Linked DNA regions of Homo sapiens: regions 1 and 3 are each linked to region 2. The links come from fine-mapping of genetic effects on gene expression. A gene starts in region 2. Each other region holds a variant in brackets. All regions are shown on one strand. Distances are between the middles of the regions.

The links. PIP is the estimated chance that this variant, and not a neighbour inherited with it, causes the effect.
Region 1: its variant is the best candidate, but not a certain one, in a credible set for the expression of COL28A1 in tibial artery (GTEx, PIP 0.89).
Region 3: its variant is the best candidate, but not a certain one, in a credible set for the expression of COL28A1 in hippocampus (GTEx, PIP 0.66).

The regions. Positions count from the first base shown.
Region 1 is chr7:7,568,519-7,579,660 of GRCh38, forward strand. MIOS (meiosis regulator for oocyte development) reads left to right here. Exons shown (of 13, transcript NM_019005.4): 4 at 3,918-5,251; 5 at 5,580-5,678. The coding sequence starts at 3,958. Among named protein-coding and RNA genes, the nearest start is that of MIOS, 7.2 kb to the left of the region's middle. RefSeq lists an enhancer at 734-793 and a silencer at 9,487-9,687. The variant T/C (reference allele first, on the strand shown) is at 6,437.
Region 2 is chr7:7,529,876-7,541,017 of GRCh38, forward strand. COL28A1 (collagen type XXVIII alpha 1 chain) reads right to left here and starts at 5,998. Exons shown (of 35, transcript NM_001037763.3): 1 at 5,875-5,998; 2 at 2,877-3,037; 3 at 1,473-2,029. The coding sequence starts at 3,000.
Region 3 is chr7:7,597,955-7,609,096 of GRCh38, forward strand. It overlaps MIOS (meiosis regulator for oocyte development), which reads left to right. Exons shown (of 13, transcript NM_019005.4): 12 at 7,988-8,117; 13 at 9,042-10,978. The coding sequence ends at 9,138. Among named protein-coding and RNA genes, the nearest start is that of MIOS, 37 kb to the left of the region's middle. The variant C/G (reference allele first, on the strand shown) is at 5,456.

The DNA.
Region 1 (11,142 bases), 39 kb after region 2:
GCACCTCTCTATACAGGGCTACTCTTATGATGTGCAACCTGTGCAGTAGCACAGAGCCCAGCATTTAGAATGGCTAGCACTTAGTTTAATGGCCAGTCTGCTGTCACTGTCTGGACATTGTAAATAATTTTTAAATGAGGGGCCCTGCATTGTTATTTTGCACCACGTCCTGCATATCGTGTAGCTGATCCTTTTCTTTGCAGTAATCTAGGACGGAAGTTGAGAGACCTTGGATAACCACCCAAACATCTGGTCTTCACTTTACTCCTTTGTGAAATTAGAAGATTTAGCTAGTCTTTTTCTCTCAAGTTTTGATTCTGTATGAATTACTGTCATCAGATTTTGTGGATGGCAATAGAAGTATTTTAGGTGCATAACATGGGAAGAAATGCTGATATTCTCCGTTGAGAGTCATGTAAATCAAAGTTTTAAATTTTATGCTAAAACTCGTATTTTATGTTTTGTAAGATGGATTTTTCTTTGTGGCATCAAGATTGCTTACCATAGACCATTGGTATAAAGAGTCGGGTTGTGGAATGAAAGCCTAGATAAAAAGTGTGTTTATTTAAACATTGATTTTTCAATGAGATGGGAAAATGGCCCAGATCTCATGATGTCTCCAATTAAGAGATTTCCTTTGTGGGGGTATGAGTATGAACCCTTATTTGGCAGTATCTGTTCCTCTTTGCTGTCGTAGCTGCTTCCTGTTACGTGAGGTGCCCCTCTTCCTCCTCATTCTTAAATTTTGAAACTCTTTTTAAGGTTGGACTTAATTTTATCACTACAGTGCAGGTTTTTTTTAGACCAGAGACTTCATCGGCTCATGTTTGCTGCTGTGTTCCCAGCTTCATAACCATGCCTAGAACATAGAAGGTGCCCAATCAATAGTCACAGAATAAATGAAAGTATAATAGCAGACATTTAAATCTTGGCCGGAGCCAGCCTCTCCTAGGGAGCGTAGAAGTGGAAGCATGAGGAAATAGGTAAAACTTGGAGATAGCAGTTGTGAGAAGTGTCAGAGGGATCATTCAGCACATGCATTTATTTAACAAATGTTTATTAACTTCCTACTAAGTGCCTAGCACTGTACTGGGGACTAGAGGTACAATGGAACACCAAAAATACTTCACCTGCTCTCATGGAGTGTATAATCCAGTAGAAGAGACAGAGATGGATGATTAAAGGGAAAGAATACTGTTTAATGACAGTGTATGTCTGAGTAACCAGACCTCGACTAGGGAGGGGATGGAGGGTGGTTGACGTCAAGGTTGAGCAGGTATTAACTTGGCCCAGAAGACAGGGAACTGTGCTCTAACCAGAGGAAACATCATTTGCAAAGGTATGGTGATGAGGGAGGAGGGTATATACTCTAGGAAGTGGAAAGGACAGTGTAAAAGGACAGCAAGAATGTTGTGCCACAAGGCCGGTGCAGTAGGCAGAGACCAAAAGCATTTAGGGTTTTGTAGGTTATACTAAGAGCAGCTGAAGACCATTAGAGGGTTTTAAGCAAGGAAGGATAGCCTGGTCAAGGTTGTGTTGTAGAAAGATTTTTACTCTGGTATTCTATAAAGCAAAATTTCTGAAGGACCAGGGGAAAGATGAATAAAAGAAAAGCCTCCAGCACCACACACCAGATATGTTGTATACCTTAATTTACTGAAATCAGTTTTCAGAGGCTTGAGACTATCCTCTGTGTGGTAGCACTTGGAAGCCTGAGTGAGGAGACAAGATGATAAATAATTGGGTTGATCTAGGACTGGGGAAAGGCAAACCCAAAGTGGCAAGGAAATGAAGACATTGAGGGTGCTAGTAAGAATATTGAAATGATTGATCTTGGGCTTGAGAAATGCTAAAGAAGGAAATAAAACCAGTATAAGAATTCCTAAATCAGTGGTCCCCAACCTTTTTGGCACCAGGGACCAGTTTCATGGAAGACAATTTTCTCACGGATGAGGGGTGGGGGTGTGGTTTCAGGATGATTCAAGCGCATTACATTTATTGTGCACTTTATTTCTATTTACATTGTACTATACAATGAAATAATTATACAACTCACCGTAATGTAGAATCAGTGGGAGCCCTGAGCTTGTTTTCCTGCAACTAGATGGTCCCATATGGGAGTGATAGGAGACAGTGACAGATCATCAGGCATTAGATTCTCACAAGGAATGCACAACCTAGATCCCTCTCTTGCACAGTTCACAATAGGGTTTGCACTCCTGTGAGAAACTAATGCTGCTATTGATCTGACAGGAGGCGGAGCTCAGGCAGCAGTGTGTGAGATGAGTGGCTGTAAATAACAGATGACGCTTAGCTCCCTTGCCTGCTGCTCACCTCCTGCTGTGTGGCCTGGTTCCTAACAGGCCAGGGAGCAGAACTGGTCTGCGGCCCTGGGAGTTGGGGACCCCTGGTCTAAATTATATGAGTCTATGAAGTTTTAGACTGGTAATTCCCAACTGAAACTTTTGCAAGATCAAAAAGAAAAGCAATTATGTTTGAGTTGAACTATTTAGTGTATCCTTATTAGGAGTCTATGCCAGGCTCTATATATGGCACTAAGGATAGAGAGGTAAGTGAACCATAGCTTTACCTTATGAGAACTGACAACAGAGTTGTACAGATGCCAATTGCAATGAAGATTTTAAGTATGTTCATTCTTTTTGAATCTATTACCTTTTGCCAGCCTCTGTTAGAAACAGGCATTTAAATTTTTGTAGGCAACCTTAATTATTGAAACACCATTTTTAACTATAGCTATATTTAGTTCGTGTGCTTCTACTGCTAGAATATTTATTTTTTTCAAAAATTCTACTTTAACACTTATTCAAAGTTTGTAGAAGCGAAAACTGAAAGAGCCTCTAATGATCACTTAATCCACTTTCTCAGAGTGTGGTATGTGTGTACCACTGGTCATAAACAGGATGCTTTGTAGATAAAACACAATCAAGCCTTTTTAATAGTTATATATTTCAGTGTAGGTTAAAAATATATTTAGCATAGCATACCATGATTCATGGACCTTATGAAGAGATTAAAGTCAATTTTCAGATTTTAAAAATGAGTCAGTTTAAAGAAAAATATTAATGGCATAGGTGTTACATGACTGAAGTTTGGGAAATACTAATCTAAACCAGCTCCTACATTGTGTAGATGAGAAAACAAAGGGGTTCCCCACACACAATGACTTTTCTGAGGCATATAACTAATATACGGCAGAGCTAGGACTAGAACTCAGGTTCGTTCAGTACATTCCAGTGTTTATTCTGCCATACAAGGCTGATGCTTATTACTAAAGTTGAAGAAACCGCTGTCTTAGTATGACATTGTACTTTAAATCTCCATTGTTCATTACGATGACCACATATGGTTATTTATATTAAAATTTGTTAAAATTAAGGTTTAAAATTTGAATTAGTCACATTTCTAGTGCTCAGTAGCTACATGTGGCTAGTGGCTACCATATTGGACAGCATGAACATGAAACATTTCTGTCATTGCAGAAAGTTTTATTGGGCAGTGCTGCTTTAAACTATTGCTTAGGAATATGATTCATAAGTTTTCCCCCCTTCAAAGGGATAATACTTATTAATTTGCTTACCACACTGAAGTTGTTATAACTCTGAAGTTAAGCTGAAGGTACTAGTAACAGTGCAATTAAGATAATTGATCATGGGAAATATAGCCAGGATGGGATTCTCAGATTCCTACCAGCTCATTTTATTGGAAGTGGTTGTTCTTTCTCCTTTTTTTTCAATAAATATTTTCTTGAATTCATAGCAGATAGAGAGAAGAAATACAAATATATTGAAAAAGAGGGTTCTTGAATAGAGAATTTTCTGACTTTCTGAATAGTTTATTCAACGTAAGAATTATATTTTGCTGATATTTTAAAACTTTTTATTTTTAAACATTTTCAGTGAATGGACCTGAGTGGACCCTTTGATCACATCAGTAAACATGAGCGGTACCAAACCTGATATTTTATGGGCACCACACCATGTTGATAGATTTGTTGTGTGTGACTCAGAACTAAGTCTTTATCATGTGGAATCTACTGTGAATTCAGAACTCAAAGCTGGATCTTTACGTTTATCTGAAGACTCTGCAGCTACATTACTGTCAATAAATTCAGATACACCCTATATGAAATGTGTTGCCTGGTATCTTAATTATGATCCTGAATGTCTGCTGGCAGTTGGACAAGCAAATGGTCGAGTTGTACTTACAAGCCTTGGTCAAGATCATAACTCAAAGTTCAAAGATTTGATAGGAAAAGAGTTTGTTCCAAAACATGCACGACAATGTAATACCCTTGCCTGGAATCCACTGGATAGTAACTGGCTAGCTGCTGGTTTAGATAAGCACAGAGCTGACTTTTCAGTGCTAATATGGGATATCTGCAGCAAATATACTCCTGATATAGTTCCCATGGAAAAAGTGAAACTTTCAGCAGGTGAAACTGAAACAACATTATTAGTAACAAAACCACTTTATGAGTTAGGACAGAATGATGCTTGTCTGTCTCTTTGTTGGCTTCCACGAGACCAGAAACTTCTCCTTGCTGGTATGCATCGTAACCTAGCTATATTTGATCTTCGGAATACAAGCCAAAAGATGTTCGTAAATACAAAAGCTGTTCAGGGTGTGACGGTAGACCCATATTTCCACGATCGTGTTGCTTCCTTCTATGAAGGTCAGGTTGCAATATGGGATCTTAGAAAATTTGAGAAGCCAGTTTTGACATTGACTGAGCAACCAAAACCCTTAACAAAAGTAGCATGGTGTCCCACTAGGACTGGTCTACTTGCCACTTTAACAAGGGATAGTAATATTATTAGATTGTATGATATGCAGCATACACCCACTCCCATTGGGGATGAAACTGAACCCACAATAATTGAAAGAAGTGTGCAACCTTGTGACAATTACATTGCTTCCTTTGCGTGGCATCCAACAAGTCAAAATCGAATGATAGTTGTAACTCCCAACCGAACAATGTCAGACTTCACTGTTTTTGAAAGGATATCTCTTGCCTGGAGCCCAATTACATCTTTAATGTGGGCTTGTGGTCGTCATTTATATGAATGTACGGAAGAAGAAAATGATAATTCTTTAGAAAAAGATATAGCAACGAAGATGCGTCTTCGGGCTTTATCAAGGTATGGACTTGATACAGAGCAGGTGTGGAGGAACCACATTTTAGCTGGAAATGAAGATCCACAGCTCAAGTCACTCTGGTATACTCTGCACTATATCCTTTTCATTGTGAATTTTGTGAGGTGAATCAGGTAGAAATGTTCTTGAAGTTTGCCAAAAGGTCAGTCTGTAAATATGCTCAATGTTTTATATACAAATACAAGTTACATAATACTAACATTATAAAGTAAAATTGTTCTAAACTTTCGAACTTGAAATACTGCTTTGTAGATTGTGTAGGAGGAAGAAAAGTGTATCTCTGCAATAGAGTCGAACCACCTTATTTACACTGATACTTATTATGAATTGGCTCCAAATCAAAATAAATTTAGCTTTGAAATATATTGTCATGCATCACTAGTATTTCCTATGCATTTAAATACTTATGAAGCAATACACAGAAGATATGGATCAGAAATCTCCAGGCAACAAAGGATCATTGGTTTATGCAGGAATTAAATCAATTGTAAAGTCATCGTTGGGTAAGAAAATTCTATTTCATTTTCTCCAATATGTTTATAACTTTTGTACTTTTATTTTGCCCCCTGTCATTTGGCAGAAATTATCTAGTTATTTCAGGATCATGTACATAATTTTTTTTGTTTTCTGATTGGATATTTCATTGTATTGTTGAGTTAAATGCATACTTGTATTTATATCCAAAACCCTTTTTGCAGGGAGTCTTAATTCTCTGAAGTGATGTTGATCTTCTTAAATCTATCCACACGTTTATTCAATGTTATTTTTTTGAAAACCCACTTTGAGAGGTTTTACACTAGACAATTTACAGATTACTGATTGTTAGTTCAGGTTTTATCGCAACATTTTGCTTCTTAAAAACTAAAAAGATCTCTAATTGAAGGAGATCCCTTTTTATTTTGCTCCTCAAATACTTTCATTGAGCCATCTAACAGCAAGGAGTATGATATGAAATATGGCCTAACGTGGAGGAATTATACCTGATATAGTCCTTGGTTAATTAGTGAATGAATTAATTAACGTGTGAGTTAATGTAGGATTGAAAATTGGTATGGTAAACTATTAAAGAATAAAAGTGACAAAAACCAAACTTTTTTTTTTTTCTGACTGCTTTAAACAGTTGTTCCTATTCTTTTACTGGAATTGAATAATGGGTTATATTAGAATTGCAGGTTGAGTATACCTTATCCAAAATGGCTTGGGACCAAAAATGTTTCAGATACTTTCAGATTTTGAAATATTTGCGTTATATACTTAGAGA[T/C]TGACCATCCCTATTCTGAAATCCAAAATGCTCCGATGAGCATTTCCTTTGAATATCATCTCAGCACTTAGAAAGTTTCAGATTTTGAAGCCTTTTGGACTTCAGTTTTCAGATTTGGGATGCTCACCCTGTATCTCTGTGATCTAGGATTCGTTCTCTAACTTTTGGTAAGTCAAATTTGGGCCCAAGTCAAGCTGTTAGAAAAGTAGTTAACATTATTTAGTCAAAGAGCAGTAATAGAAGTAGTAAATCCAATTTGATTTTTTACGGAGCTTGTATCAGTACCATACAAACAAAATACAAAATAATAAAATATTTTAGAGTAGGTTAAGTGTTTTAATTAAACTGTTACATTATAGTGTTTTTTTAACGTCTTTCAAATTACTTTGGTTCACTTTACTGAAAGATGCAGTAGACTACTTACTGATCAGTTTGATTTTATTGTTTTTGTATTAGCCCTCCACCAAAAAAAGTAACCTTTATTATAAATAGTAAAATGAATAAGTTTAGTTAGAAGCTGCTGTTTTTATTAACATAGGTAAAAGGGCACACATACTGTTTTACTCCCACAAATGAACCTGGTACCATGGTTCAAGATTTTAGAGCCATTGCCTATTGCTACAAAGAATTAAACACCAAGTTTATAGAATTTATAGTGTTTTAGCTATATAGTAGATCAGGCCACACTGCACTCAATTATTTAGAGGTTGGTTATTGTGTTTTTTGTATTTTGATATATTTTAAGGAAAAGCCAGCATCTGAGGAAAAGCAAAAGGGGAAAATGTAATATGTTTATGTTTCTGGTGCACTAGAGACAAACTGAGTATCCCACCCCTGTGTCAAAATAGTCTCTACCCAGACTAAAGAAACACTACTGTTGGAAAGATTTCCTCATTCATCATTCTCTCATTGCTAGGTTTTCAGCTTTTTTTTTTTTGTTTGGTATAGATATTTTTGTTTCTACTACCCAAAGGTGAAAAGTAGAGAAATACTGTCAAATATGCCACTCTTAGATTTCAGTCTTCTGTTTTATTTGGCCATACCTTTTCCTCTAATTGTATCTCTAATAATCAACACATGGTAAGTCAACACATTGAGCCATCTTGTCCACAGTAACCTAATACACAAGTTTATTAGAGCATACAGCTAAATTTTAATTTTGGTAACAAATAGTATATATATAAGTGCTTGCTATGAATTAGTTGCTTTTCCCATGTTACTTTAATTTTTACAACTACAATATGAAGTAAGCTCATTCATTCAGCAAGTATTTATTACCTACATGCATGCTATATGCCAGGAGTTATCCTAGGAACTAGAGACATAACTCTCAAGAAGATACATAAATCTCTTCCCTCATGGAGATTGAGCAGGATCAATGTCATCCCTGCTCTTGAGGAGTTTATATTCTAGTTTAGAATATAGACAAGTAAGCTGGCAGTTATAACATAGGGAAGAACAGACAGTTAATTACAGGAAGGACTCCTAATCTGGTTGCAGGGATTAGAGGTTTCTCAGAGGAGGTACAGTTAAAGACAAGGTCCAGACAGGGAGCAGCATGTGCAGTGGACCCAGAGGGTAGAGAGCATAGCACATTATTATGGCTGAAACAGAGCATGAGAGAGGAAGTGAGGAAAGAATGGAGGCTAGAAAGGTAAGCAGTGGGCTAACTCAAGAAAGACTTAGAAATCATGTTAAGAATTTAGGGAGATTCATCTTGTAAGACGGGGAAACAGATGGATTTGTGACAGATTTGTGTTTTAAAAGGATCAAGATTGATAGTAGGGATATCAGATAGAAGCCTGCTGCAAGGAGGCAAGACGTGATGCTATCCTTACCAAGGTTAGTAGCAGAGGAGCTAGAGAAATGTGGATACATTAGAGAATAGGAGAAAATTTAATGATTAATTAGATAAAGGGGTGGAGAAGATGGAAAAGTCAAAGGTAGCACACATATATTTAGTTTGGGAAACTAGTTAATTTTAAGTATGTTAATTAGGAATAACACAGGAAGAGTATTTGGGTTTATTTTGGAGCAAGTTGAAATCAAGATGCTTAGGTAGAGACGTCCATTGGGCAATAGGATATCAGTTCAAAGCCCAGGGGAGGAATATAATGTATGTCAGAAATAAATGATATTTGATAGAGTAAATGGAATTGTTTGGAGTAAGAAAGAGATGGCTTAAAGGAGACTGAGGCAGATTGTCGAGAGATGTAGGAGAAAGATCTATATGACAAAAACCGCAATCACTTTTGTACCAACCTAGTATACATTCATGTGGAAGAGAGGTCAGTTGTCCGGTGCTCCATGCTTCAGATCCAGCCAAATAAGAACTAAAAAGGACTCACTGAATTTAGGACTAGGAGAAGGTCTTTCACTGGCGGTATGGATAGCAAATTGCAGTTATATTAGAAATTCAGAGTGGGTTGAGGAAATGAAGTAATCAATTATAAATACTTTTTTTGAAGGAATTTGACTATATAAAGGAGGACAAAAAGATACGCAGTAGGAGGAGACAAATCTGGAGCCGGGAGCTTTGTGTTGCTTTATTTCTGTTTTCAACATGGGATTAATTTAAGCATGTTTAAATGCTAATTGAAGGAAGCCCATAGAGGTTAAAGATGCAGAGAGAAGGGAGTGAAGCGAAGTTCCTAGAAATGGGAGGGAATGGGATCCAGAGCACAGGTTTCTTTAGCTTTAGATACAAGGGTGCACACCTCCACATTTGCCAGAGGAAAGGGGGAAAGGATGCTGTATGCAGGATGTTTGAGTTTCAATAACCAGAGGCTGAGGGATTTCCCATTTTATGGCTGCTGTTGAGAAGGAGCAGGGAGGTCGTAGGAAGAGGATATGGAGAAGAGGAGAGAGAGCTGTCTTGAGAAATATGGGAGGATTACTGGGTAACATTATTTTACCAGAAGGCAGAATAAAGGACAGTAGGGCAAGATAATTAAATATATTGGCAAGAGAGTGGTTCACTTGACCCTTGGGATCTTATTTGGATAGAGATGAAAATGAAGACAGGATAAGACTGATAAGTAAAAATAATAGTGGTGAAGACACTGCGAGGTTGTGAAAAATATAAGGAAGTGAGATTTTTGGAAGGCTATGTGGTTGTGGTTAGAAAGTAGGTCTTTTGGAGGAGGACAGTTTCAAGTGTGGCTGTGAAAGGAGTAGCTAAAGTCTTGGAGGTGTAGACCACTGGAGATAAGGAAGCAAAGGAACTGAGAGGCTAGTTTATTGAATGGGCTAAGTGCTTAGATCAACCAGGATGAGAAGAATGCATGCTCTGAGGGAATCTCTTCTACAGACCTGTATAGCAAGTTCACAGTGTTATTAGTAGGTATAATTCCTTCCTTTTAAGATGGCAGAAAGTTGTATAAAAAATATTGGCCTGCTTTAATCCATCATGAAAATAATATTTTTCATGCTTAAAGAGTAAACTCTACAGTTCCGGCTACTCAGGAGGTTGAGATAGGAGGATCGCTTGGGCCCGGGAGTTTGAAACCAGTCTGGGTTACATAGAGACCCTGTCTCTCTTTTTCTTTAAAACAAACAAACAAAAAGGTAAAATCTAATCTAGAGAACTGAGAATTTGTCTATGCAAAATGACTTCAAGGGGCAAAATAGCTAGGATTTCTTATAAACTGGATAATTGTATTGCTTAGTTACTACATAGATATTAAAATGAAACAAATTAGTAGCTACAAAGAGCATAGTATCTGATTGCTGATTTGAAAGAAATGTTTAAATCCTAATTTTTTTTTTTTTGGAGACAGAGTCTCTCTCTCTGTCACCCAGGCTGGAGTGCAGTGACACAATCTTGGCTCACTGCAACTTCCACCTCCTGGGTTCAAGTGATTTTCGTGCCTCAGCCTCCTGAGTAGCTGGGATTACAGGCGCATGCCATTACACCTGGCTAATTTTTGTATTTTTTGTAGAGACAGGGTTTTGCCACATTGGCCAGGCTGGTCTCAAACTCCTAACCTCAAGTGATCTGCCTGCCTCGGGCTCCCAAAGTGCTGGGATTACAGGCATGAGCCATCGTGCCTGGCCTAAACCCTGATTTTTAATGTTTAAATAAACTTGTTTTCCTCGCAGCCATCAGTAAAACGTTTTCTGTTATTTATGTATAGGACAGTCTCAAATTTAGGAGATAAAATTTTGTTACTTTAGTGGTACATAACATGCATAAATATATTTTACTTCGTTTTCAGAGATATATTAAAAATTTATATGTAAAACTCATAAGTTAAAACCCATGCTGACATCATATTGCTTATTTGATAATTCTGATAATCAACTGTAGCATAGTTATCAATAAAAAGATCTCTAAGCAGAAAAAATATGTGATACAATAACCATGTTCTTAACATGCAGGACATATTAATATTTCTACCTCCTAGCAGTGACCTCTTTGAATTCATTTTCAGTCATCTACTGCACAATGACGTTTCTGTTAACAATCGACTGCATATATAATGGTGGCCCCATAAGATTTAATACTGTATTTTAACTTTACCTTTTCTGTGTTTAGGTACTCAAATACTTACCATTGTGTTAGAGTTGCCTGCAGTATTCAGTACAGTAACTTGCTATAAAGCAGAGGTGTCCAATCTTGTCTTCCCTGGGCCACAATGGAAGAATTGTCTTGGGCCACACATAAAATACACTAAGAATAGCTGATGAGCTAAAAAATAAAAAAG
Region 2 (11,142 bases):
CACTACAAATTTCCCTTTCATGCAAAAGAGCTGCTCAGAATGAGTACTTACCTTGAGCACCACAGGACTGGGCCCATCAGCTCTATCTCTGATCTAGGCATAACTCTCCCATTTACCCCGAATCCCCAAGGAAAAAAAGGCTAGAAACAATAGTAACTTTGGAGGAGGGCTGCTACCAAACTGTTTCAGAGCAGTTCTGATTGAGAAAATATTTTTTTAAAAAGCAGTTACTATTTCCTCTCTCAATATGCCTTTATAGGGTTAAGCATGCAAACTGTGAGGTCTTCACCGGCCTTAAATTTTCAACTACAAAATGGGTATAATAACATTACCTACATCATAAGATTGTGGCAAACATTGAATAAAATAAAATATATAAAGTGTTCAGGAAAATGCCTAATACAGAGAGAGTACTCAATACCTAAGAGCTATTATTTAGGTAAGAAAACCTCAGATCTTATGCTGAAAGCAACAGAGAGTAAAAAGATAAGAGTAATGTTGAGAAAAAGATCGAGGGATAAGACAAAAGGAGCAAAACAATCTCTGAAATAGAGCCTGAGTTTTCTGTGCAAGCTGTAGAAAACAGCCATATGAAACGCTCAGTACATAAAGGACACCTTTGCCTTCCTTTCTCAGGAAATCAAAGAAATCCAAGTTTTTAAGAAAATCAGTTTTTAACACTCAGCCAATCAACCAATTTATCTCTAGGCGTTTTCTCCTTGAGAAATATTGTGAAGAGGGATTTCCTTTTGATTGTGGTGCCGTGTGTTTTACAAAGCAGCAAGGAAAGGCTTTTATACACAGCTGAGCAACAAACAAAGAAAAGCTGACCAGACCTATCAAGTGGGACTCATTGATTTGATGGGAGAAACTGTTGCTTGACTGCAGGTTGCAGATGATTTTAAATTGGATGGGCTTGAGAACATCTAAGAAAGAAGGAGGTAATTTTAAAAATTGGAAGTCTATGAACTTTGAGTAGCATAATGTAACAATAGGTGAGACAGAGTCAAAAATACTCAGTCCTTTAGAAGAGTAAGAGAGAATATGTCAAGATTATGTCAAAAATACCTGTACAGATGTGGAATGGGAAAAGACCAACTTGGTACAAATATAGCCTAACACCTCAAGTTGAGCACAACCTGAATATAAGTCAGCAATGTTCATGATTGTAGGCTGTATAAACAGGAGCTTAAGGTATATGATTGGAAAATAACCCCTTCCAAAATCCTCAGCATCAGCTAGCAATAAAGTTAAAAATGCAATTCCAGGGAATTAGCCTGGAACTTTTCCAGATTGTCTGGAGTAAACTGCCAAGAAAGTGGAGTGACACTTCAGAAAGATTCTTCTTTCTGTTTTCAGTGTTAACTCTCATTTTCTCCATCTTTTTGACCCAGTATCTCTTCTTATGGGATTTACAACAAATATGTCAATATTATGATGATAACTGTATAATCAACCCATTAGGTACCTACCAGACGATCTTGAATTTTATCTACAAGGGTTGGATCACTCAACAGTAAAGTGGGTTCACTGGATGAATCCCCAGAAATCAAACGAAGTTTGGCTTCATTGACTACCGTAGAAAGTGCAATGGTGATAAATGATATTCCTGAAATTCTGGCATCTTCAGAAATACTTTGAACATCTGGATTCTTTGGATGGTCGATGCCATCAGTCATCAGCAAAACCACTTTCACACCATCCTTACGCCCTTCTCTCTTAAGTAGCCTAGTGGCATTGGAAATGGCATAATAAGAGAAGGTACCTTGCCCTATTAAATTCATAGACTTGACCTTCTGCTTAAATGTCTGCAGGTCCTTCCAGGAAGAAAAAGGTGGATCAATTTGGACAGAGCTGCTAAACTGAAGGGCTGCCAGTTTGATGTCATATTCCAAGGAGCGACCAGGAGTCAATTGGAAAATCTTGTCACTCAAGCTATCCACAAAATCTTTCTGTTTATCAAAGAGGGCAATTTTAGAACTTTCAGAGCTGTCCACGATGAAGACAATATCTATGAAACAAATGGAGCCTGAAACAGAATAAACAGGTTAGGCAAAATAATTATTCCTATCATGAAACAAATTTGCATACGGAAAGCCCTGAAGTGGTGTGTTGTATATTGTTTGGTGTTGAGAGCAGCGTGAGGAGAGAAAGAGAGACACGTTGGACAGAAGGCTTCAATTGTAAAAAACTAAATGTCTAAGTTTATGAATTATTTTCTCCTTGTAAAATCATGCAAATTAAAAATAAATAAGATATCTTTTATTCTGAGCATCTTTTCAATGTTAAACCTGCTGAAAGTGGGAGGAAATGGGAAGTCAAGATGCATCACATTTTAAAAATCCAACTAACACTGAGCATAGTTGTCTAGAAGTAAATGATACTCTAATTCTCAGGTTGTGTCATATTGGTGAGTCCCTATTTTTTTTTAAACTTTCTTGAAATCAAGGGAGAAAATGACTATACCCCCTATACCAAGAGTAAGTGGAGAAGAAACCTAACTTAAACACAACTTAAGTTTAAATCCCAGCTCTGTGTCTCAGTGGTTAATTTGCCTATGGCCTTGAGTATGCCACTCGACCTGTTAAGACCTCAATTTTTTTAATCTACACTATGAGTGGCAATCTCCGTCCTGCCTATTTTACAAGGTTACTGTGAGGCTCAAATGAGATAATAAGTGCACAAGTGCTCTTATTAAAGACTCTGATGTGCTATAAGTATGTAAGGTATATTATCATCATATAATTTTATCAAAGTAGACTATCACATGTATACATGTATATGGCTTGCTATTTATATCAAATGCTATTTAGAAAAATTCACATAAGTATTTTTAACAGGCTAAACTTAAAAACAAACAATTTTTTTTTTTTTACCCTGGACATCACTTTTCCTTGCAAGCAAATTTGATTTTGGTCCTTTCTTTCTTTGTCCGGATACTGTTTGACTCGTAAACGCTGACAAAAGCAGGAGATAGAAGACAAAATATCTGTTCCACATTATGGTAGATGGTGAAAAATCATCTGTCTTGTAGCACCTTTAATAGAAAAGTCAGTTACAAATACTTTAATAAAATATGGTGTTTGTTATTTTTAAATTTCAAGCCAGCAGGGTTGAAAACTGGCATGTGACTGGAAAAAAGAGGTTTTCATTCATATTTCTAGAAAAATATTCACATTGAGATTTTGAAAGATTTCAATCCAAATAAATCATGGCACCATGACCAAACATTTATTAGTGAATATTTCTATATATTCAAAGAACTATATTTAAGTATTCTTAATTCCGCATTGTATTTTGAGGAGCATAGAGTTGGGAGAGCCATTTAAAAACATTTCAATCCCGCTCTATATGATTACTGTGGTTCAATCACAGGGTCTGCTTTGACATTTCCAAATTCTTCAGGGGGAATTCAGATTGCTATATGGTCATTTCATTCACTTTCATTATAACTGATTCCTGACAAATCTAGTATTTTGTAGAACTGTAGACAACCACCACCCTTTCAGGCTTAATACTACACACATAACTTCAGTGAGTTCAGAGGTCAAGGTAAAAATTAAACGACCCTTCTGTTTCCATAGAACCCCATCTCTCTTTTCTACCCTAGCTTTGGAAACTTTGTCTCCACCAGGGGTTCAAAGCTGCATATGCAATGAATCAAAAGAGTATGAGAGCAAAAATAATAGATTTGCTTAAAAGCAACACTCTTCTTCCAGTGATGGCTAAAAGAACTAATGGACAGAAACGGGACTTAAAGCCAAGAAGCACCCCCTCTGAATAGCCCCGTGAAACTATTTTTCTGGGTGGATTAACAACGAAAAATCTAATTCTGTATTAAAATCCTCAATCTTCATCAGTCAATATGCCTAGCTACACACCAACTGACTCTTAAACTGACAGATTTCCCTGGGAGGAGAAGACTCATGTGTTGCTGCCTCAGTATACCCAAGAGAATGGGAACGAGAAAGCTTATTTCGAATCAATACTTAGTATGGCTTAAAAATGCTTGCCTGCTGAAACTTTATTGACTTCAGGAGTTCTGGAAAAGGAATCACATTTTCCTTCTTTGGCACCTTGCCTTTAGGGGATAAGAATCTGGGAAATCATGAGCACGATTTTTCCAGACTCTGAGTAGAGAGTGGAAATATATGCAAAGGCAGTGAGGAGTGAGATGGAGACTGACTTTTTTCATACATGCCAGATGGATAAACCCCAAAGGGAAACAAAACTGTTGGGTTAGGAGAGGACCAATGGATGGCTTCATGCCACAGTCTGCTCCTCACATAGCATCATCCAGCTGGAAGTGTATTAAAAGAACTTTGGATAGGTATGACCAAACATCTTGTGTAGCAATTGGCCAAATGCCAACTGATCCTCAGACAAGGTATACTAAAATGTAAAGACAGCTGGGTATTAAAAACAAAACAAAACCAAGAAATGTGCTAAGGAAACAGAACACACAAAGGCCATCTCTCCTCAAGTTGTCCCTTTGCTAACCAAGGAAAAAAATAAATGATGTACAACTTTAAGTCTGAAGGTTAGTGTAAAGATAAGGCTATGTGAAAAACACAGTTGTTATTGCATTTTCAAAGGGGAAAGGGAATAACACCATGGCCATGGTATTACATATGACTTTTCTCTTTGGTTGAGTTCATACCATAAGGAACATCTCAGAAGTTCTGGAAATAAGAGGCTGAGAACTGAATTCCATTGAGAACTGAGCAAGATTTTATAAGCAACATAATCAAGCAACTCTTCAAAACCCTTCATGTAAGGTTTTAGAAATACTGGCTTTAAATAAAGATTTATCTTTTCCCAAAACTAAGCACCTGCTCTTACTGTTTTCTTGGCATATAATCATGAATTTGTACCTGATCCCTGTATATATGATATTCACAAACATAACTTTTCCATTGACAATAATCCCAGTATCTCATATTTTGTTCTTATTTGCTCTGACATTGTTAATCTAGCTCTCCCAAACCAAAGTCTTGTTATTTCTTTCTGTTTCCCTATTGTAGCCAGAGGACATTTTCATACCTCTCTAGATTTGTTTCTCTAGCTTGTTAGTTCTACTGCTTCCCTGAAATATCTTTCTCGTTTATTAATTTGGCATCTTGAGAGCCCACTCATTTCTAATCACTTTTTACCATGTTTTATTTTGCCTCTGTTTTTAATAATTCTCACCTTTCTCTCTTTCTGATGTCACGTACAAGCAAAATAGGTTTCAGAGGAAACAGTGCCATTAGTTAAGTGAAAGAAATGTGAACCTCTGTGTTTACTATAGGTTACATTTTATAAATGCAGAAACAATCATAATTATTAATCAAATACCGTAGTTTTACTTTTGGCCTAAAATTTATTTGGGGTAAATATCAGGATCAGTAAATAAATCCAAGATACTTTATTTTTTATAATTTTTCAAAAATAAAATGATCTTATATCAGAGTTCACCAACTTTAGTTACAATGTTTGCATCTCAGTTTCTACACAAATAGAAAATGATTGAATAAAGACTTTATTCAAATTGACAAATTAGCCAAGTTGTAAAGTATTCTATAACTAATTCTGAATTGTAAACCCTGTTCCAAATTAAGAAAAAGATGTCCTAAAATATATTAACATCGTTGTAAAACAATTTAGAAGACTGTAAATTAAAAATCCATTTCAAAATAATTTTAAGTTTTAAATTTCTACATTTTAACAATGTTAATATTTTTCTAATAATTGATTTGAAGTAATTGCAGAGAATACAAACTATTGACAAGCTTTCTCACCTAATAATTATGTAAGTAAGTCATTTAGTCTTCCACAGTTCCTTGATGGTCCTATCTGATTTCAAGTGACTAAAATAAATCTGTTATGTCTTACCTTATAAAGTTTGTCAAACAGGAATTAAAGACTAGTTGAGTAAATGCCAACAGCAAGGACTGTGGTTGGGGGTGAAGTTAGCTATTTGATATTGTTCTGTTCTGTGGGAAATAAAAGTGTCTTTGCTTTAGGATCTTTTGCAGTCTTTTGTTCATGTTTATTCGACTAAGTCAAAGCAAGAGTGGTCAGGCATTTGGCCAGGGTGCAAGATCTGGGTGGGATCAGTAAGCAATTTAAAGGAACAGTGTCCTTTCAGAATGAGACTGTGTTTTCCAGACTATTGTAAAAACAACTTGAGAGAACTTTCTACATTTTAGGCATTGGTTGACAGCCTGCCTTTTTTTCTCATGCTATGTCCTTCTCTTTTTATTGCTACATTTCTTTGCCTGGGGGATGTGCTCTAAGATACTGGTTCTGAACATCTCTGTGAAGGAGTATAAATGACACCAGACTCAGAATCAAAGCTGTTTTTTTAAGAGAGGTAACAGTTTGATTGTTATTAAAGCTGGATGATGAGTACATAGGTGTGCATTGTTCTAGTCTTTGTATTTCTGTGATTTTTGAAATTTTTTATAATAAAAGGTATATATAATATACAGGGAAAGAGTGGTCTGAGTATAGTCATAGTTCTGCCCCTAACTTTTATGGGGGCTTCAGTTCCCCACTTATGAAATGAGAGAGTAGATTTAATCATTTATTAAGATGTGTTCGAACTGTAACATGAGAGGTTTACAGCGGTTAATATTTTGGTCTCTCTCTAGGAAAGGATCACTGTGGTTTTTCCACTCCCTGTTTCCCTATTTTCTACCTTGTGGTTATGGTCCATATTAAGTCAATGTTTATCATGTAATATATACTGCCAAGAAGCCACCTGACCCCTAGACAGCTAACAGGCAGGCTTCTCCACGGACTTCCTCTGAAATAGAGAATAGCAAGATCATCCGAGAAAGCAATACAAATGTGCATGTTACGGTTATTTAAAATGAACTTTCTTAGCCATTTTAATGTGTATGAATTTCCTTATTACAGCAATAATAGCCTCCAATTCATGGACACTTACCAGGTGCTAGGCACTGTCCTGAGTGCTTCACACACATTACCTCATTTAATCCTTCACAAGCACAACCACCTATATACAGTAAGTCCTCACTTAATGTCCTCTGTAGGTTCTGGAAACTGTGACATAAAGTGAAACAATTGATAATGAAGACAATTTTCCCAAGAGCTAATTGATATAAATAAGAGTTAAGCTCTTATGGCATATTCCTAGTCACAAAAACATCACTAAACCTCTAAATACTCAAAACACCTCTAATAATAAACATTGAAATAAATCTAAGCTATATATACATTTATGAAAGATTGATAAAAACAAGATAACTGCTTACCTGCATATTCCAGTTCAGGGTCACGGTTGACCAGATCCTGTCCCAGCAGCTGAGGATACAAGGCAGGAACCAGCCCTGGACAGGATGCAGTACTGTCAAAGGGCACTCATACACCCACCCACTCTCTCAGACAGGCACCATGTAGACACACCAATGCATCTAATGGGCAAAGCTTTGGGATGTGGGAGGAAACTCCAGGACCTGGAGAAAACCCACACAGACATGGGGAAAACATGTCAACTCCACACAGTGAGCCTGGCCCAGGAATTGAATTTTTTTTCTCATCAATGTTATAACAAAATGACATTGAACAAAATATTATTCCAGGACCCCTTGTACTTAGTAGATGTTGTAAGAATTCGAATTTTTCCAAGATGGAGGCAGAGAGAGGTTCAGTAACTTGTCCGCTGTCATACTAAAACCAGAGAATGGCAAAATGAACTTTTAACTCAGGCTGGTAAGACCTGTGAGCCTCACTTATAACAACTACTGCATCATTAAGTATCTATGCGAACGTCTGTGTTTTCACTGTCTCCTCCTCACAAAACAGGTTTCGAGGAACTGAGGAAGTTTTGTGAGGCTTTGGTAACAGAAAGAAGAAACGGTGGGTATAATGCAGAAATAACAACGGAATTTCCTAGGGAACAACCATGTATTTACCTGATAGCCTATGGGTGTTAGTCACACTTTTTACTTTTGTAAGATGAGAATCAAGAGACAAGGAAGTAGCATCTTTTCAGGTCAACTCTCTTTTTGCTGAGGCAGGTTAAAAACATGCAGAATAATAATGCCACTAAGAAGCAAACAGGTGATTCCTAGATGGGGGAAATGGACTAAAGCCCTCCTGCCTTGGAGCTGTTTTGATTAAAGTTGGTGGGAGGTTGGAGTCCAACTTAGTCATCCATTCCCTTTCATTCTCCAACATTAAATAGGGTAACTCAAACCAAAGATTTGCCACCTCTCATTCTCAAGCGTGAAAATCAGCACTAAATTAATTGGGAAGATTATGCAAAATAAAATCTTCAGTTTCATCAATCTATAAAAGACAATTAGTTTTGCACCCAGAGAAACAATGCACCACAATCTTAATCCCAACAGATGGTCTTGAATTAGTATGCTATTGGACTTACACCAGAACAAATAAGAGAGCATGGATAACCATAATGACTAGAAAAAGGCAACGTGGAGCCCATGCCCTTCTGACAGTTATTTTGTAGTAAAAGTCTTTATGGAAGAAATATAGCACACTATTTTCATTGTTACTACTATAAATAGCCCAGAGTAAGCAGTCATATTTGTGAAATAAATGATTATTAGAAGTAATTTTTAGTGTTTATCAGTCACTTGAGGTCTGTGATACAATAAATTGCTCTTCTCCAAAGCTCTGCTAGATGAAAATCTTTTTTCAACTTTTTCAAATTCTTTTAATATGCTACCATAGTAGCATCTGCATTGTGTTTATTGATTCTAGTACCAGTGCCAACATCTTAATTTCAGTGGTGATGATATTTTGGGGTCCTAGAATCATTTAAAAAGAGACAAGTCTGCTAGGACTTACATATTTCAGAGAATTGTATCTGCATGAAGTCATAGAAATACACACAAAAAAAGGCTGGTAACAAATCAAAGTTATATATTTTGACCAAGATTAAGGCATAGTATAGTTTCACAAGCTTCTCCCTATTTTAGCCACCTCCCACACTGCTGATCTAGAGTAGAAAAAAAAAAACATTACCAACTAACAAGGAAGAAATTAATGACCTTCGTACCTGATTTGAAGAAATTTGTTCTTGAAGATCCTTTCCTTTCTTTCTTTCTTTTTTTCTTTTTCTTTCTTTCTTTCTCTTTCTTCTTTTTGTCAGTAGAAAAGCTTGATATAGTAGAATTTCTAACACCTGCCCCAAAGCTCTGAAATTTCTGGGATTCATTATCCTTGGACCCAGAATATGACCTAGGCATTCTCTCAACTCCTTCATCAGTAATTAGAGGAACACTGTCTTAGTCCATTTTGTGTTGCTATAAAGGAATACCTAAGGCTGAGTAATCTATAAAGAAAAGAGGTTTATTTGGCTTACAATTCTGCAGTCTATGCAAGAAGCATGACACCAGCATCTGCTTCTGGTGAGGGCCATTGACTGCTTCTACTCATGGCAGAAGGTGAAAGGGGACCAGCGTGTGCAGATCATATGGTAAGAGGGAGCAAGAGAGCAGGGAGAGAGGTGTCAGACTCTTTTAAAGAATCAGCTCCCCCAGGAACTAATACAGAGAGAACACACTCATTACCGCAAGGATGGCATTAAGTCATTCATAAGGGATCCACCCACATGACCCAAACGTTTCCCATCAGGCCCCACTTCCAACAGTGGGGATGAAATTTCAACACGAGGTTTGGAGGGGGCAAATATGCAAACCATGGCAAACACCAAAACTGTATTGGTCTTATTTGTCAACAAAGGGAAAGATTAAAAGCATTCAAAGACAATAAGAAAATAAAAATTATCATTGGTAATAAAATACAGGATGTGGCATTGCTTAAATGTGGAACAGCGTGACTTCAGTTCCTATGCCCTCACCAAATTCTGATTGAGTTGATCCTTCCACATTCCCTCTACTATTTTTCAATTGTTACTATTATTTAATAAACTTTATGGTTTAGAGCAGTTTCGGGGTACAGCAACACGGACTCAATTATCTTTTATATCGTTTACTCCCTAAGATCTCTTGCTTCATTATTTGTCATTCAATCCCCAGCTTGAATAATTGTGTCACATTTGCAACACACAGTGCCTCATAGGCTACAGTGACAGGCTAAATTCCCGTTATACCAATCTTATGACTATTAATCTCTTTCTCTAAAATATTTTTTCAATATTAATATTTCTTCTTTCCATGTTGTTTATTCCTGACTAAATGCAATTATTTTAGACCAAAAATAAATCAAGGTGCCATCTGGAAAGTTTTACAATTTTTTTTCTAAGAAATATCTGAAAGTAGATTGATCTAGTCCTATCATAGGTTTGAATGTTCAATATTTTTCTTTAATTATTTTCTTTGGTCAATGGATAGAGCAGTTTTAACTTTTTCATGCAGAGCCTACAAATAGAGAAAGATCAGATCTATTTATACCTTGACTAAACTCTGCTTTAAATGGCAAAATATTTCTATTTTTCACTTAGTTCATTTTACTTTCAGATATTAGACAGTGTTATTCTAGATCTTGGTGAATTATTTGATAACCACTGATTGGTATTTAAACTTTTCTTGTATTGGGGACAAACAATAGTGTTAAATCTCTGAACTGGAAGGAAACTTAGAAACCACTTTTATTTAATTCTGCCATTTCACAGTTGATAAAATAGAGGACAGATATTAAGACCCACCCAAAGGTCAAATCATTAATCAGTGAGGGACTAAAATTTAGGTCTTTGTGCATCAAAGTGGCCATCTTTCATTATCTCTAAATGCCCTAGAAAATTTTTAGGCCTTTGCGCTATCCAGGCTTGTGCTTGAGCAGGAGAAAAAGGAAGCTGTATGGCTAATAATTTATATTTATAAGGATTTAACTTTAGTGGCAAATGGCTCAGAACAAATCATCATGGGCTAAGTCCCAGCACATTAAAGAGTCTCACCTCTCACTGTGTAAATCTTAGTGCCTGGGCCATTAAAGGCAATGAACACCACCTCTTCGAACCCTGGGTTGAAAAACTTTCTCCTCCAGGTTTGGACAGGTTTATCTGAGTAGCTGGGGATTGTTACAGCTACTTCAATAACTGATCCCTAATCAAAACATAGCCAGTAATATAGGTAGATATCATCATTTGCATGAATATTAAGTTGTAGAAACACAATACCTACTTGGGTTTTCTGGTCAGTGTATTGA
Region 3 (11,142 bases), 68 kb after region 2:
ATGCCCAGCCTATATTTTTTAATGGTTAGAAATATTAAGATTATTTTTTATTCTTTATAGTAAACATATGGGAAAAAATTTTGAGAATAGTAGATAATTAAATATCTTATACCTGGTGGCTGGAATTATTCCAGCTCTTTACCTAACTTGAAAATGATACTGTGGCACAATTTTCAATTAAAATCATTTTGGGTATTTGGCACACAGGTGTAATGAATAAAGAACTGGTTAGAGTGTCAGAATGTCTGTTTTAATTCTAACTCTGTGACATGCAGTCTGTGACACTGAGAGTTACTTGCACCTTCCTCTGGACTGGAGATCCTTTCTAGTGCAGACATTTTATAATTCTATTCTGTATCGTGTTCATTTAAGTAGTCTGCTTTATCATTACATTAACATTTATGAAAGACTTGCTGGTATCATTGGCTTAGCGATTATTTTTCCATCTAGATGCTTTTTTTAAAGAAATGAAGAGAATATGTAATGTTTTAAATGTACATTTTAGTTTTGATTTAAATTTTAATCAAGGATTTTTATTTTATACATTACATACTGATCACTGTTTTATGTTAACTCTGGTCCTAATAAACAGAAAATAACAATTTGGAATATCTACAACAATGAGAGCTCGAGGTAAAATATAGCATAAATAAGACATATATGTGTATGAACTGAGATATATAGAAATAATTAAATGTAACACATCTTTTGGACCATAAGCCTCAGGAAGCTATAAGGATTATTTGCATTCTTACACCTGGGCACTCTTCCTTTTTGCTGAATACCAGTTTTTCAATCTTTTCTATTTTTGAAATAGGTAAGAAAAGAAAATAATTTTCTAGAATTTGAAGAAAAATCTTAAAACATTTGAAATTCTTTGTTATGATGACTAATATAACGAATAGCACTCAGGTTTATCAAATATTAACATTTTTCCATATTTGTTATAGAATTTTTTTCCATATTTGCTACAGAAATAATTTCTTTATATATATAATACATATTTGAACACTGATTTTACTTGATACATTAATATAATGCTGATGTGCTGAGATGAATAAATCAAAGAACCTCTTGGAGCTCTTGGTGTGCAATAAGCATAGTTAACGAATATAAAATAAGTGATATTTTCTAGAAAATAAATACTGGTCTACAATGCCTTATCTGTCATTTCAAAGTCTCTAAAAAGATCTGAAAATCCAATGCCTTTTAAAAATAAAATTACGGTAATCTCATTTGACCACAAAACCTGTTCAGAATTGATGTGAGGCTATTAAGATATTTATTTCTCTTATTTATTAGTGAATATTCATCTTTCACTACAGAAATACTAACGAGTTTGATTACAGGGTGCTTTAGACTTCCCTCAAGGTGTACATATTTGCTACTTTTTTCTAAAATCCCAAACATCCTGGATTCTGAAACACATCTAAACCCCCAACATGAATTAGGACTATTATATAAGGAAAGAATTAGGAATTTTGAAAGTGGGAAATATTACTTCTATCTGAAGGATATCTGGAAAGCTTTAGGAGGAAGTTACCATTTAAGCCAGTCCTTTAAAGTTTGGTAGATTTAATATATGAAGATTGCAGGGAAGCCGTCCAGGTTGCAGACCAAGTGTAAAAAACATGAACTAGGGTGAAGAGATTGGTAAGTATTATGATAAGTACAGGGGGTGTTTGGGAAGAGCAAGTGTATTGTTGTGAAAGGACCTAGGAAGTGAACTGATAAGAAACAGTAGGAAAATTAGGGAGAGCCTGAATATGATCTTTAAAGGCATTGCTGAGCTAAGTTAGAGAATAATCACTCTTTATAATAGCAAAGACATAAAATCAACTTCAATGCCCATCAGTGGTGGACTGGATAAAGAAATGTGGTACATACACAGCATAGAATACTATGCAGCCATGTCTTTTGCAGCAGCATGGATAGAGCTGGAGGCCATTATCCTAAGCAAACTAACACAGGAACAGAAAACCAAATACCACATGTTATAAGTAGGAGCTAAACATTGAGAACATATGGTCATAAAGAAGGAATAACAGACACCAGGGCTTACTGGAGGGTGCTAGGTGGGAGGAGGATCGAAAAACTACCTGTCGGGTACTATGTTTATTACCTGGATGATGAAATAATCCGTACACCAAAACCCCCATGACACGCAATTTACCTGTATAACAAACCTGCACATGTACCCCTGAAACTAAAGTAAAAGTTTAAAAAAAAGAAAAAGAAGCAAATTATTTTTTTTTGGCATGTGAAATCAGAAAAGTCCATTTCCAAAGTAAAACAGGATCTAATAGAAATCAAGTGCTGGATAATTGGATAAAGAGTCAAGACCCATCAGTGTGCTGTATTCAGGAAACCCGTCTCACGTGCAGAGACACACATAGGCTCAAAATAAAGGGATGGAGGAAGATCTACCAAGCAAATGGAAAACAAAAAAAGGCAGGCGTTGCAATCCTGATCTCAGATAAAACAGAGTTTAAACCAACAAAGATCAAAAGAGACAAGGCCATTACATAATGGTAAAGGGATCAGTTCAACACGAAGAACTAACTATCCTAAATATATATGCACCCAATACAGGAGCACCCAGATTCATAAAGCAAGTCCTTAGTGACCTACAAAGAGACTTAGACTCCCACACAATAATAATGGGAGACTTTAACACCCCACTGTCAACATTAGACAGATCAACGAGGCAGAAAGTGAACAAGGATATCCAGGAATTGAACTCCGCTCTGCACCAAGCGGACCTAATAGACATCTACAGAACTCTCCACCCCAAATCAACAGCATATACATTCTTTTCAGCACCACACCACACCTTTTCCAAAATTGACCACATAGTTGGAAGTAAAGCACTCCTCAGCAAATGTAAAAGAACAGAAATTATAACAAACTGTCTCTCAGACCACAGTGCAATCAAACTAGAACTCAGGATTAAGACATTCACTCCAAACCGCTCAACTACATGGAAACTGAACAACGTGCTCCTGAATGACTACTGGGTACATAACGAAATGAAGGCAGAAATAAAGATGTTCTTTGAAACCAACGAGAACAAAGACACAACATACCAGAATCTCTGGGACACATTCAAAGCAGTGTTTAGAGGGAAATTTATAGCACTAAATGCCCACGAGAGTAAGCAGGAAAGATCTAAAATTGACACCCTAACATCACAATTGAAAGAACTAGAGAAGCAAGAGCAAACACATTGAAAAGCTAGCAAAAGGCAAGAAATAACTAAGATCAGAGCAGAACTGAAGGAAATAGAGACACAAAAGACCCTTCAAAAAATCAATGAATCCAGGAGCTGGTTTTTTTTTTGAAAAGATCAACAAAATTGATAGACTGCTAGCAAGACTAATAAAGAAGAAAAGAGAGAAAAATCAAATAGACGCAATAAAAAATGACAAAGGGGATATCACCACCGATCCCACAGAAATACAAACTACCATCAGAGAATACCATAAACACCTCTATGCAAATAAACTAGAAAATCTAGAAGAAATGGATAAATTCCTGGACACATACACCCTCCCAAGACTAAACCAGGAAGAAGTTGAATCTCTGAATAGACCAATAACAGGATCTGAAATTGAGGCAATCCTTAATAGCTTACCAACCAAAAAAAGTCCAGGACCAGATGGATTCACAGCCGAACTCTACCAGAGGTACAAGGAGGAGCTGGTACCATTCCTTCTGAAACTATTCCAATCAATAGAAAAAGAGGGAATCCTCCCCAACTCATTTTATGAGGCCAGCATCATCCTGATACCAAAGACTGGCAGAGACACAACAAAAAAAGAGAATTTTAGGCCAATATCCTTGATGAACATTGATGCAAAAATCCTCAATAAAATACTGGCAAACCAAATCCAGCAACACATCAAAAAGCTTATCCACCATGATCAAGTGGGCTTCATCCCTGGGATGCAAGGCTGGTTCAACATACGAAAATCAATAAATGTAATCCAGCACATAAACAGAACCAAAGACAAAAACCACATGATTATCTCAATAGATGCAGAAAAGGCCTTTGACAAAATTCAACAACCCTTCATGCTAAAAACTCTCAATAAATTAGGTATTGATGGGATGTATCACGAAATAATAAGAGCTATCTATGACACACCCACAGCCAATATCATACTGAATGGACAAAAAACTGGAAGCATTCCCTTTGAAAACTGGCACAAGACAGGGATGCCCTCTCTCACCACTCCTATTCAACATAGTGTTGGAAGTTCTGGCCAGGGCAATCAGACAGGAGAAGGAAATAAAGGGCATTCATTTAGGAAAAGAGGAAGTCAAATTGTCCCTGTTTGCAGATGACATGATTGTATACCTAGAAATCCCCATTGTCTCAGCCCAAAATCTCCTTAAGCTGATAAGCAACTTCAGCAAAGTCTCAGGATACAAAATCAATGTGCAGAAATCACAAGCATTCTTATACACCAATAACAGACAAACAGAGAGCCAAATCATGAGTGAACTCCCATTCACAATTGCTTCAAAGAGAATAAAATACCTAGGAATCCAACTTACAAGGGATGTGAAGGACCTCTTCAAGGAGAACTACAAACTACTGCTCAAGGAAATAAAAGAGGATACAAACAAATGGAAGAACATTCCATGCTCATGGGTGGGAAGAATCAATATCATGAAAATGGCCATACTGCCCAAGGTAATTTATAGATTCAGTGCCATCCCCATCAAGCTACCAATGACTTTCTTCACAGAATTGAAAAAAACTAAAGTTCATATGGAACCAAAAAAGAGCCCGCATTGCCAAGTCAATCCCAAGCCAAAAGAACAAAGCCGGAGGCATCACACTACCTGACTTCAAACTATACTACAAGGCTACAGTAACCAAAACAGCATGGTACTGGTACCAAAACAGAGATATAGACCAATGGAACGGAACAGAGCCCTCAGAAATAATGCCACCTATCTACAACCATCTGATCTTTGACAAACCTGAGAAAAACAAGCAATGGGGAAAGGATTCCCTATTTAATAAATGGTGCTGGGAAAACTGGCTAGCCATATGTAGAAAGCTGAAACTGGATCCCTTCCTTACACCTTATACAAAAATTAATTCAAGATGGATTAAAGACTTAAACGTTAGACCTAAAACCGTAAAAACCCTAGAAGAAAGGCAATACCATTCAGGACATAGGCATGGGCAAGGACTTCATGTCTAAAACACCAAAAGCAATGGCAACAAAAGCCAAAATTGACAAATGGGATCTAATTAAACTAAAGAGCTTCTGCACAGCAAAAGAAACTACCATCAGAGTGAACAGGCAACCTACAAAATGGGAGAAAATTTTTGCAACCTACTCATCTGACAAAGGGCTAATATCCAGAAGCTACAATGAACTGAAACAAATTTACAAGAAAAAAACAACCCCATCAAAAACTGGGCAAAGGATATGAA[C/G]AGACACTTCTCAAAAGAAGACATTTATGCAGCCAAAAAACACGTGAAAAAATGTTCATCATCACTGGCCATCAGAGAAATGCAAATCAAAACCACAATGAGATACCATCTCACACCAGTTAGAATGGCGATCATTAAAAAGTCAGGAAACAACAGGTGTTGGAGAGGATGTGAAGAAATAGGAACACTTTTACACTGTTGGTGGGACTGTAAACTAGTTCAACCATTGTGGAAGTCAGTGTGGCGATTCCTCAGGGATCTAGAACTAGAAATACCATTTGACCCAGCCATTCTATTACTGGGTATATACCCAAAGGATTATAAATCATGCTGCTATAAAGACACATGCACACGTATGTTTATTGCAGCACTATTCACAATAGCAAAGACTTGGAACCAAGCCAGATATCCAACAATGATAGACTGGATTAAGAAAATGTGGCACATATACACCATGGAATACTATGCAGCCATAAAAAATGATGAGTTCATGTCCTTTGTAGGGACATGGATGAAGCTGGAAACCATCATTCTCAGCAAACTATCGCAAGGACAAAAATCCAAACACCGCATGTTCTCACTGACAGGCGGGAATTGAACAATTTGAGAACACATGGACACAGTAAGGGGAACATTACACATCGGGGACTGTTGTGGGGTGCGGGGAAGGGGGAGGGATAGCATTAGGAGATATACCTAATGCTAAATGACGAGTTAATGGGTGGAGCACACCAACATGGCACATGTATACATATATAACAAACCTGCACGTTGTGCACATGTACCCTAAAACTTTAATAATAATAAAATTTAAAAAAAAATAAAGTGCTGGCTAGTGGCTCGAGTATCTAAACCTCCCTGGTGCTTTGCCTGCAATCAGAGATTGCATCCATCCATCATGCTTTGTGATTCAAATAGCTGGAATTTCTATAAGCTTATTTAACTGAGAGTTGATATTTTTATACTCAATTGTGCTTTGAAGATTAGAAATCTGTTGAAACAGTTCTAACATCATTATAAACATTATAAATATTATTTATTCAACAAATGTTTATTTGGTACCTATTGTTCCAAGTGCTAGAAATGTTACAGTAAAGAAGACAAAAATCGCTGCCCTTACAGAATTTAACTTCTGGACAATGACACATTTTTTAAAAGTTAGATTATCTACTGGTTTCCTTCATTTTCTTCTTACATTATGAGTTAATGCATAAGTGAAACTCTAGTTTCGCCTAAAGTGTTCTGTGGCACTTGTCTTCATAATTCACTATAAATCTTTTAAAATTTGAAGTCATTTGATCTTAAGCCTTTATACTTGGCAGTGAGATAGACCTTAATACTTCCAGTTTCGTCAGAAAAATATAAGGATATGCCTTGTTCTGATTCAGTCTGTTATCTGTTTATGTTAGAAGTTACAAAAACAAAGTGACAAGCACTAATGAGAGCTTTACACAAAGGTGTAAAGTAGTGTACATATCAGATCTATATTTTATTTATCTCTTCCCCCTTTCCTTTTTGCCCTCTCATTATTAATTGTTGGTGACCCTTTCAGGAGTAATTCTAGTGTGTTTACATCTTTAATCATTGAATTACTTACACATCCTTTCACCTCATATCATTAGCAAAAACGGATATTTTTTAAAACTATTCCCGACTGCAAGATTATCCTTTTGGTCATGAAAGCGTGACCTGCAATGGTCCAAGCAAAATTTTTAACATAGTTATCGATGCATAATGTCTTTATAGATAGCAATTAAGTAAAAATATTAAGTCTAATTAAGCAATTGTTTAAGTTACACAAGTCTCATGAAGTGCATTGGGAAACTTTCTGCTTTTTCTCTTCTTTGAAAGGGCTTGTACAGATGAGAATTACCTGTCCCTTGATAGATTTTTTTTTTTTTTTGAGACAAAGTCTTGCTCCATCACCCAGCCTGGAGTGCAGCAGTGCAATCTCGGCTCCCTGCAGCCTCCAATCCCCAGATTTAAGCAATTCTTGTGCCTCAGCCTCCCAAGTAGGTGGGACTACAGGCATGTGTCACCACCCCCGGCCAATTTTTGTATTTTTAACAGAGACGGAGTTTCACCATGTTGGCCAGACTGGTCGTGAACTCCTAGCCTCAAGTGGTCTGCCCGCCTCAGCCTCCCAAAGTGCTGGGATTACAGGCATGAGCCATCACACCCAGCCCTACCTGTTCCTTGAATGTTAAGTAAAATTCACTTGTAAACTGGGCCTGGTATTTTCCTTGTGGAAAGATTTTAAACTACTGATTTGGTCTCTCCAAAGTTTTAAATTTAGATTGTTTCTTAGTGGGTTTGGATTTTTTTTTCCATTTTTATATTGGCTATTAAAAATGTAGGGGAGCTTCTGTCATTCAGTTTCGCTTCATCTAAACTAGAACCTACCATCAAAATTGCTATTTCAATATGATGTGTGATTCATATTTGGAACACAGTTTTAGAAATGCTTTTTGAAAGTAACTTTAAATAAAATATTATGATATAGTTAATGAAGATCATTTTATTTTGTCATAGGAGGAACCAAATCAGATGAAAAAGTGGACTTGAGCAAGGACAAAAAATTAGCCCAATTTAACAACTGGTTTACATGGTGTCATAATTGCAGGCACGGTGGACATGCTGGACATATGCTTAGTTGGTTCAGGTAATCAGCACATTTCTTCTTTGATAGGCTTGGAGTTATGGGGGATAACACAGATTGCTTCTAAATAGTTTGGGTTTATCTATTAGCATTTAGCCAAAGTATGAATTTTATTTTTTACTGTCACTCATGTTAACAAAGGTGGTGTGAACATGTCGTGATTAGATATCCTATGTAACCTTAAACTATAAAGGTAATACTTATGTAAGAACTAATTTAAATGTTTTGTATGAGTTAAATGTTTGAATAACATTATTTAACTTTATTCGGGGAGAGGATATGTTTACAGTTTTTACACTGAATATTCTGTAATTTACCATGCAATTGAATTACTAATGAAATGTTAAAAGAGCATATCATACCTCTGCCTCAGTTCTCTTCTAAGTAAGCTTTTTATGTAGTCACGCAATTAAGACTGTCAAGACATATTTGAATTTCATTTTGAATGGTGCCAGTGGCCCTGTGCTCCTGGTTGATACAGCATTTATACCCAGTTTGTCTTACTAGCTAATTTAAACTCTGAGCACATCCCTGTCACCTTCACAACTATAAATGAAATATCTTGCCATATATGTAGAAAGTAAAAGGTATGTGTTTCTTAACTTCTCCCTAAACTTCAGCTTGGCAGTAGTTTATAATTTGATGCTTTTGATGCTTTTTTTCTCTGGGTTTTAGTTTCTATATTTTTCCAAATGCCATTTTGAAAAGTTGCATTATAGATAGATATAAGTAAACAGGTGGGCACAGTGGTGCACACCTGTAGTCCCAGCTACTCAGGAGGCTGAGGCAGGAGGATCACTTGAGCCCAAAAGTGTGCGTACAGCCTGGGAAATATAGGGAGACCCTGTCTCTTAAAAAATAAATAAATAAATAAATGTATGTCTGTCTAATTTGGATTTTTAACTGTTATTTGACCTATTTTTTTAGGGACCATGCAGAGTGCCCTGTGTCGGCATGCACGTGTAAATGTATGCAGTTGGATACAACAGGGAATCTGGTACCTGCAGAGACTGTCCAGCCATAAAATGTTACCACCTTAAGAGAACCCTTCAAGTGTGGAGCTTTCTAGTAGGTGTCCTTCATAGCTCAGAAACATACCTCAGAACAAGCCATTCATGACTTACCTGTAATGGGAAAATAAATCATTCTATCAGATCAGCAGTTTTGATGTTTGAGTGATTTTGATATGCTTCACAGAGACAAATGCTGCCAAAATAAACATCGAAGTATAGACATGAGTTCTGTTCAGCAGGTTGAAAAGTCTGATTTAGAAAAACTTTCTAAGTTTTGGTTGAAATTATGAACACTCTAGAAGCAGAATTTCTGGAAGAGCCAAGAACAGACTTTGAGCCTATATCTTCAAAGCTGAAACTGGATATCTTTCAATAAAATATGTGCACTTTTAAAATAAAATGACTAATTCTGTGATTCAGACAATAGTTTTAAGTTCAGCTGTGCTTAGATTTCTTTCAGATTAATTTAAAATTACAGATTTTTACTTTTAGAATTGCAGAGCCCCTATCCCACACTGGAGAATATTTTTTATTACTGTCTGTTATATATGTGTCTATGTGTGTGTGTATATTTATGTGTGTATGTATAAATATGTATTTTTTAAAGGAGCCTTTTCCCTCCTTTGATTTTAAGATAAGCAATCTTTTGGCATAACATTATCGTCTTCCTAGAAAAGCCAAGATGAAGAATCTATCTTACAACTTTTTCTCTTCAGTAGAGAAAAACATGTACCATTTCAGGTGAACATACAAAATTTTCACTTTCTACCTTTTGCCTTCCAATGTCCTGATTTGTCTTCAAAGGTTTTTCTCCATATTAATTTGTCATCTTATCCTCATCACCTGAGAACATTTTACTGCATACAAAGTCTATGCAAGATTATATGTAACTAGCCATTTAGTATAATCTATGTCAGTGTTTCTGTGCTGTCAAATTCCGTCCTGATTTGGAATACCATACCTTGTTCTTTCCAAGGTAGACTAGGAAGTGTTGGGGAAATGGGGTCACTTCAGAGACCATTTTAGATGTAAGTTTTTAAATGTAAGTGTTACTGGGGCTAAGTCAGGTACTTTATTTAAAACATTTTTTTTTCTCATTTCATAGCTAGATAGTTGTAAGAGAAATACAAAGAATTTACAAGATGCTTCTCTGTCATCTGCCATATGCAGAGGGACTGAACTAGGAATTTTGTAGTTGAAGCTGTGTTCATAAAGAGTAAATCTTATTTTATAGATTTTGGAGAAATAAAACAAGAATTTTAAGAGCTTTCGTATTAGCAGTTTTGCCTTATAAAAACTAAGATTTGTCAGATTAGTTTGAGGTGTAACCTAAATATTAAAAGTAGATTAAATTTATTTTTTACCTTGAGTGTCTGATACATAAAACCCTTTTCTAGGAAAACATTGGAAGTAGTACATATTTACTCTAAATGTCTCACCTGCATGACAGTCTTTTCAAATGAAAGACATGGTAATTGCAATTTTTTTTTAAAGATTGCTATTAAGGGTACTTTTTCCAGCCTTCATTTGAGTAAATCTTAATTGATTTCATTTTATTAACATATACCCTTTACCTTTAATATTTCATTTGAAGTGTTCCTTTCAAACTTACTGTCTTAAATATGAAAGTCAGCTTTAAGTAATGTCAGACTCATATGCATTTTCATTCTCATTAGCTAAAGTAAAATGTAAAATTATCTCAAATAGTTACAAGTTTTGGAAATACAGTATAAAACATGAATGTAAAGTCTATTATGTAATATGCTTATTTGTAATCCTAATATATGAGGGTGACATTTTTAAGATTGTATGTATGTGTCAACCTCTTAAATGTTTTCTGTGAAGCCCAAACATGCAGTTTATGTCTCTGGTGTCTGTTTTGCATTTCAGTGTGCATGGACAATCAAATTATTTTCTCATTTTTATCACTAAGTCACTGGTATTTGGGTTTATAAACTCAACAAGATACTTTACCTAAACATGATCAATAGATGTGTTTATTAAAAGTGTTTTTA